Linked DNA regions of Homo sapiens. The protein of the gene in region 1 interacts with the protein of each later gene in a pairwise test. Each region holds a gene or a part of one and is shown in the gene's direction. Other genes may lie near its edges. The genes, in order: PELO and ICAM1.

The links.
Region 2: the proteins of PELO (region 1) and ICAM1 interact in binary tests that used the Homo sapiens proteins (3 or more experiments, as listed by UniProt).

What each region holds. Positions count from the first base shown.
Region 1 is NC_000005.10:52,790,685-52,794,606, forward strand, and holds part of PELO (protein pelota homolog), read left to right. Parts: intron 1-3,922. UniProt on the Homo sapiens protein: Component of the Pelota-HBS1L complex, a complex that recognizes stalled ribosomes and triggers the No-Go Decay (NGD) pathway.
Region 2 is NC_000019.10:10,274,046-10,277,967, forward strand, and holds part of ICAM1 (intercellular adhesion molecule 1 precursor), read left to right. Parts: intron 1-719; coding exon 720-983; intron 984-3,922. UniProt on the Homo sapiens protein: ICAM proteins are ligands for the leukocyte adhesion protein LFA-1 (integrin alpha-L/beta-2).

The sequences.
Region 1 (3,922 bases):
TTACAATGTGCCTACCAGAATAATCTCCTCATCTCAAGATCTTTAATTTAATTACATCTTCCAAGTCCCTTTTACCATCTAAGATAACATATTCACAGGTTCCAGGCATTAGGTCATGGATATCTTTGGGAGACCATTATTCTGCCTACCACAACCCATAAGCATAAACTGTCCATTATAGCCAATCACTTTTCTTTACTTTCTCCATAATCCTCATGTTCATTTTGCCACTGAAGATATGACCTTGTTTTATACATCGAGAAAAGAATTCCACCTTTCCATCCTACCACCCTCTGACATCTAAATAAACTCTCTACAGCCTTCCAAACTGGGTTTACATCAGAACAACAAGCCACCAGCATCCCAATAAACTTCCTATTTGATTTAGACTGTCTTATATTAGCTCCTTACAACGTTTACTAAAATGATTCATCAAAAAGATGTCCTTATGTCCAAAGGATTGTTATTTTATGTATGTCAAAGTCTCAGCATAAACTGATGTCACATATAAAGGATTTAACTGAAGACAGTTTCATAAAGTGACAGTTTAGAGAGGCCTTAAAGGAACAAGAAAAGAGGGTGGAGCATCTAGCGCAAGCAACAGTAGGGAAAAAAGAACCTGAAGCAAGGTGAGAAGAAAAACCATGACCATTCCTAGGCCTGAGGAGGTGGCAGTGTTAGTTTGATTATGAACTCTAGTTATGGGAGGGTGGCCATTAGACTGGAGTTGTGGTCATAAAAAGGAATGCAGCTAGTGACAAAATTGAAGCCCAGCAGAGAAGGAGTAAGGAAAATAAATATACCTCCTTTCCTCCCACCCTCTGATGTCTTGCTCAGCCTTCCCATTGGCCATCCCCAAATGGCAAGATCCAACCTTCCAGAGAACAAAGGGCAAGACAATCAATAACAGAATAGCTAGCACAACTTAACCCCGAAATGTATTATGTGCAAGGCACTGTGCCAAGGGCTTTGCATGTATTATTTCATTTTAATCTAAAAAATTAAGTTTACTAATTGATCACAAGCAGTCACAGATTTCTTTGTTCTTTTTTCACTCCCTCAGCTTGTTGATTAGCCTTGAAAAAAAGAAAAGAAAAAATTAAAACTTTATAACTATTATCAATATTTTAGAGATGAGGAAATCAAAATATAGTATTAAGAAGTTAATTTCATTTGTCCAAAGTTGAAGAACTAATGACAAATCTACTCAATTCATATCTCTGACCTCAAATTAAATGCTCTAAAATAATATGCTATATTGGCTGCCTAAAGATAAGTTCATTCTCTCTTGCTCACTCCTCTAAATGTGAAATCCAAACATAGTTGTCTAAAATACTTGGATAAAGACCTAATTAATGATACAAGTCAATCTTTTATTTCCATGATTTTTAGGTGTACAGCATTAAGTGTAACTCAAGTAAGACTACTATTTCTCGTTATTAAGAATATAAATATAGAATTAGCCCTAATTAAACTATATGTCTCTCTTCCCTAGAAACATTTTGGTTGGCCTAGAAGCAAGGGTCTTCTTTTCACAGGCAAGATTTCCTATTCAAAATGAAATCCAGTGAGGAGATGGGAGATGGCTGAATATGGGGAGGAAGTCAGCCACTTATTCAAAACAAAGAATGACTCCCAATGGCAGACAATGTATTGTCAGGAATTGCTGAAGATGGTGAAAATTGTCTTACTCATTGTGATGTTTGTAAAGGCAGCAATGAATTCACGGGATTTTTGTTTGTTTAGTAAACAGGCAATGAGAGTAACCATGAGACACATATATATGCTATACTAGTTTAACTATTTCTCTTCCCTCCTGTCATAACACTTACCCAGCTATTTTGAAGCATGAGCTCTTGGGCCACAGCTTATCACTGATGTTCTGACTTCAGTAGATAGATGCTCCTCTAACATGTTCCTCCACTTCCAACCCAATAAACTTCCCACTAGATTTAGAACTTGCTGAATTTCCACATCTTAACATATTTTAGTAGAATAAAGTAGCTCATGTTTAAAATATATTTAGAAAAGTTGGGGACTAAAATGCTATTCTTTACCTACACTTCTCTTCTGTTGTGTGAAATACAAAATAGTGTACTCAAATTCATGTTAAGAAACTGAGATGAAAGATATTTTGAAACTGTTGCCACAGTGCTAAAGTCAGAATAGATTGCCTATTCAGAGCAGTCTGTGACTGGAGAATTGTATTCGCCCTCAAAGCAAGTACAGTAGAGTATCAAGAGATGCAAATGACTGCATATATTTCTATCTTCAAGATTATTGAGCTTCTTTCAGCTCCTTTATTATGCCAGCTACTCTAAAGTCTCCTTGGGGACTTTGCATAAGTAGTTACTCCCACTGCTACTGATCTCAATCCCTGAATAAACGTCATTTCCAAGAGATACCCTGAAGTAGATTGGACCCTACCTTAGGACATGTGTATCCCAGCACCTTTGCTTCTATTATATAATGCACCACGGTATTATAATTAACTATCTAATTGCCTGTCTTTCCAGCTTGCTGTATGCTCTGTGAGGGTAGGATCTTTAACCATAACACCTAGAAATAATAGGCACTTTTTAATTGAATGAATCGCAAAAGAATTGACTATTGACAAACTCAGAAAATACTTAAGGGATCAGATTGTCCCTTTATTATATACCTCTGCCTTATTTTATTATACCTCTGCCTGAAATATTTCTGTCTATCCAAATTTATAAATAATGGAATGGAAGACACCATCAGTTGAAAGATGCACCATTATTTTATGTACCACTAAAAAAGACAAGCCACTCCCAATCCAATTATAATTGCTAGATTGTTAGATAGTTCCTAGTTTCAGAGATGTCAAAATTGGGAAAATGTGCGTCTGAAAATTACAATCAATAATATACAGTGTATGGTACTTTTTACCATGGTACTTTTCTATTTGTTTGGACACTTAAAAATTGTGTCATAAGATTTTGAAGAGGCTAGTATGTGAACCCCATCTAGATACAGAGATATAACATTGTTCCTCTCAGTTCTCTTCAAGTGCCAAGTTTATATCTGATTTAGGGGATAATTGCTCCTCTGGCACCAACAGCCTCACCAGATCCCAAAAACAGAGCTCCCTCCAAATGCTCTATCTTTAGAAGAGAGCTTCAGGAGAAAGGTGACAATAAAGTAATCATATAATGTTCCAGTTGCACAGGATTAATGACTCTAGCTTTGGCAAACTCTTAACTTTTTGTCATGTTGGTGGTAAGCTCCAGGGTTGTGTATATAGGAAGAAGACTAATTTTAATCAAAACTTTCCTATGATTTAAAAGGAAGATAAAAAAGTCAACTAAGTTTTAAAAGGAAATTAAAATGCATATGCTGGTTGGTGTTAGGAATTCACTTTATGTGTTAAAAAAAATCAATTTTATCCAAACAGGAGATCCCTATTAACAAGATAAGTAAGAGATCTGAAATGAGAAATCATTGTAATTCAAATATGCAAAGGAGTGGATACACATACTCTTTTTGTATGAATTATATGAGATCTCCTAAAATAAATGCAAATTCTTAAATTTAAATATAGCACCTAAGTCACTTTAAAACATCAATAGTTAAGATGGTTTATATATTTTGTTACAAATCATATATCCTTACTACAAATTAAATGTACTTTCAAAATTATTTTATTAATTAGACTTTTATTTTACCAAATACTAAAGTCTAGAAATACATGGGTACTGGCCAATCCTTAAAAATATCTGTGTAACACATTTTACTTATAATATTTTTGGTGAAATGATCTTATGCCGTATAAGAATACATGCAAATAGAAATACACACACACACACACACACACACACACACACACACTTCTGTTCATAGGATTTTGTTTATTTGGTAGGAGGTTTTGTATTATTTTGTGACAACTGCAAGTAAGCAC
Region 2 (3,922 bases), on another chromosome or scaffold:
GCATGGCCTTCAGTGCTCACGGGATCTTCCTGAATTAATCTCCCCCTCTTCATCCTTGCTCACTCAGCTCCAGCCACCCTGCCCCGGGACATCTGTACTTGCCTGGAACTTATTTCCCTTTTCTCCGGACAGCCAGCCCTTTCTCGTCATTTAGATCTCTGCTGAAACATTACCCTGTCACCAAAGCACTGTCTATTCTATCACCCTGTTTTGTTTTTGTCAAAGCTCATATTAACATCAGTTATTAATTATCTTGTTTGCTCATAATTTTTTTTTTTTTTTTTTTGGAGACAGAGTCTCGTTCTGTTGCTCAGGCTGGAGTGCAGTGGCACAATCTTGGCTCACTGTAACCTCCACCTCCCAGGTTCAAGTGATTCTTGTGCCTCAGCCTCCCAAATAGCTAGGACTACAGGCACGTCCCACCATGCCCAGCTAATTTTTGTATTTTTAGTGGAGACGGGGCTTTGTCATGTTGGCCAGGCTGATCTCAAATTCCTGACCTCAAGTGATCTGCCCGCCTTGGCCTCCCAAAGTGCTGGGATTACAGGCGTGAGCCACCACACCCGGCCTGCTCATGAATTTTCTCTTTAACTTCCACATCGAAGGCAAAGTATTGTCTTGTTAAGGCTGTGCCTCCAGCACCCAGCACAGGCTGGGCGCACATTCCCTTGATGAACCTGATTTGTAATGCCTGTCGCCTCTTCCCTCGTTTCTTCTAGGACCTGGCAATGCCCAGACATCTGTGTCCCCCTCAAAAGTCATCCTGCCCCGGGGAGGCTCCGTGCTGGTGACATGCAGCACCTCCTGTGACCAGCCCAAGTTGTTGGGCATAGAGACCCCGTTGCCTAAAAAGGAGTTGCTCCTGCCTGGGAACAACCGGAAGGTGTATGAACTGAGCAATGTGCAAGAAGATAGCCAACCAATGTGCTATTCAAACTGCCCTGATGGGCAGTCAACAGCTAAAACCTTCCTCACCGTGTACTGTGAGTAACTGAGCCCGGAGGGCTGGACTAGGCAGACCCGGTGGGAGAGACGTGCAGGGGCACCTGCAGAGGCCTGGGGGAATCTTTGCCACTTGCTCGTAGGGTCAAGGAGGGGCTCCTTGCAGGGCAGGTGGGGACATCCTTGGAAAGTCCCTTTGTGAATTTCTTTGGGTACAATTAAAGTATTTACAGGCTGGGTGCGGTGGCTCATGCCTGTAATCCCAGCACTTTGAGAGGCTGAGGCTGGCGGATCACCTGAGATCAGGAGTTTAAGTTTCGCCAACATGGCGAAACCCTGTCTCTGCTGAAAATACAAAAATCAGCCGGGCATGGTGTCAAGCGCCTGTAATCCCAGCTACTTGGAAGGCTGAGGCAGGAGAACGCTTGAACCTGAGAGGCAGAGATTGCAGTGAGCCGCGATCGTGCCAGTGCACTCCAGTCTGGATAACAGAGCAAGATTCCATCTCAAGAAAAAAAAAATGCCATCTCTCTATGCCTCACTCTTTGAACATATGACACGGTCCTGCTTCAGACACTTTAATAAAAGATGCAAATTAAGCCAAGTGTGGTGGCTTGTACCTATAATCCCAACTACTCCAGAGGCTGAGGCAGAAGGATGGTTTGAGCCCAGGAGTTTGAGACCAGCCTGGGCAACAGAGTGAGACCCTGTTTCTTTCTTTTTTTTTTTTTTTTTTTTGAGACGGAGTCTCACTCTGTCGCCCAGGCTGGAGTGCAGTGGTGTGATCTCGGCTCACTGCAAGCTCCGCCTCCCGGGTTCACGCCATTCTCCTGCCTCAGCCTCCCGAGTAGCTGGGACTACAGGCGCCTGCCACCATGCCCGGCTCATTTTTTTGTATTTTTAGTAGAGACGGGGTTTCACTGTGTTAGCCAGGATGGTCTCAATCTCCTGACCTAGTGGTCCGCCCGCCTCGGCCTCCCAAAGTGCTGGGATTACAGGTGTAAGCCACTGTGCCCATCCAAGACCCTGTTTCTACCGGAAAAAAAAAGTAAATAATTTAGCTGGGCATCGTGGTGTGCACCTGTAATCCCAGCTGCTCCTGAGGCTGTGATGGGAGGATTGCTTTAACCCAGGGGTTCGAATCCTAGGAGTTCGAATCCATCCTAGGCAACATAGCAAAACCCCATTTTTATTTAAAAAAAAAAAAAAAGATATGAGTTAAAACTAGCCCTGGGATGGCATTTTTCACATATTGGTAACAAACAAAAGAATTGATGGCCGGGCGCAGTGGCTCACGCCTGTAATCCCAGCACTTTGGGAGGCCGAGGCGGGCGGATCACAAGGTCAGGAGATCGAGACCATCCTGGCTAACATGGTGAAACCCCGTCTCTACTAAAACTACAAAAAATTAGCCGGGCATGGTGGCAGGCGCCTGTGGTCCCAGCTACTCAGGAGGCTGAGGCAGGAGAATGGCATGAACCCGGGAGGCAGAGCTTGCAGTGAGCCAAGATCGTGCCACTGCACTCCAGCCTGGGCGACAGAGCAAGACTCCATCTCAAAAAAAAAAAAAAAAAAAAGAATTGATAACAGCTGTGCTGCCAAGGCTATTGGAACGTAGGAGGTCCTAGGACAGTGCTGTTGGGAGCATAAATAAGCCCAACCCTGTGGCGGGAAATTGGGCATCAGTTCTCAAAATGTCATGGGCTGGGCACGGTGGCTCACGCCTGTAATCCCAGCACTTTGGGAGGCTGAGGGAGGCGGATCACTTGAGGTCAGGAGTTCGAGACCAGCCTGACCACCATGGAGAAACCCCGTCTCTATTAAAAATACAAAAAAAACTAGCCAGGCATAGTGGCACATACCTGTAATCCCAGCTACTCGGGAGGCTGAGGCAGGAGAATCTCTTGAAACTGGGAGGCAGAGGTTGCGGTGAGCTGAGATTGCGCCACTGCACTCCAGCTTGGGCAACAAGAGCAAAACTCCATCTCAAAAAAAAAAAAAAAAGAAATAAAAGAAGGTATGTTGAATATGAGTGGTATGCCACCCTCACATTAGGGAAGGGCAGTTTCGGGGAGGCTGTATTTATGTATAAAATAGCCCTAAAAGGAAGTGGGAGAAATGACAATATTAGCTGGCTATGAGAAGAGAGGCTGGGAGGCTGTGGGAGAGGGCTTGGGTGTGGAGAATTCTTTTTGTTTTTTCCTTTTTTTGAGACAGAGTTTCACTCTTGTTGCCCAGGCTGGAGTGCAATGGCACGATCTCAGCTCACCGCAACCTTCACCTCCTGAGTTTAAGTGATTCTCCGGCCTCAGCCTCCCGACTAGCTGGGATTACAGGCATGGGCCACTACGCCTGGCAAATTTTGTATTTTTAGTAGAGACAGGGTTTCTCCATGTTGGTCAGGCTGGTCTTGAACTCTGACCTCAGGTGATCCGCCCGCCTCGGCCTCCCAAAGTGCTGGGATTACAACGTGAGCCACTTTGCCTGGCTGAGAATTCTTTTTTTGTTGTTGTCTTTTTGAGATGGAGTTTTGCTGTGTCCCCAGCCTGGAGTGCAATGGTGTAATCTCAGCTCACTGCAACCTCTCCCTCCCGGGTTCAAGCAATTCTCCTGCCTCAGCCTCCCAAGTAGCTGGAATTACAGGCGCCCAGCACCACGCCCGGCTAATTTTTGTATTTTTAGTAGAGACGGGATTTCATCATGTTGGCCAGGCTGGTCTTGATCTCCTGACCTTGTGATCTGCCCGCCTCGGCCTCCCAAAGTGCTGGGATTACAGGCGTGAGCCACTGCCCCCAGCCGAGAATTTCTCTTTGCGTCCTTCCTACTTTGGGGACTTCGAATGGTGGGAAAGAGTTATCAAGGCCAAAATAAGGAATTCAAATGAAAACAAAACAAAATCAAAGAAGAAAAAACAGAAGAGCACTGGGCAGGCTAGGCACGTGGCTCATGCCTATAATCCCAGTGATTTAGAAGGCCGAAG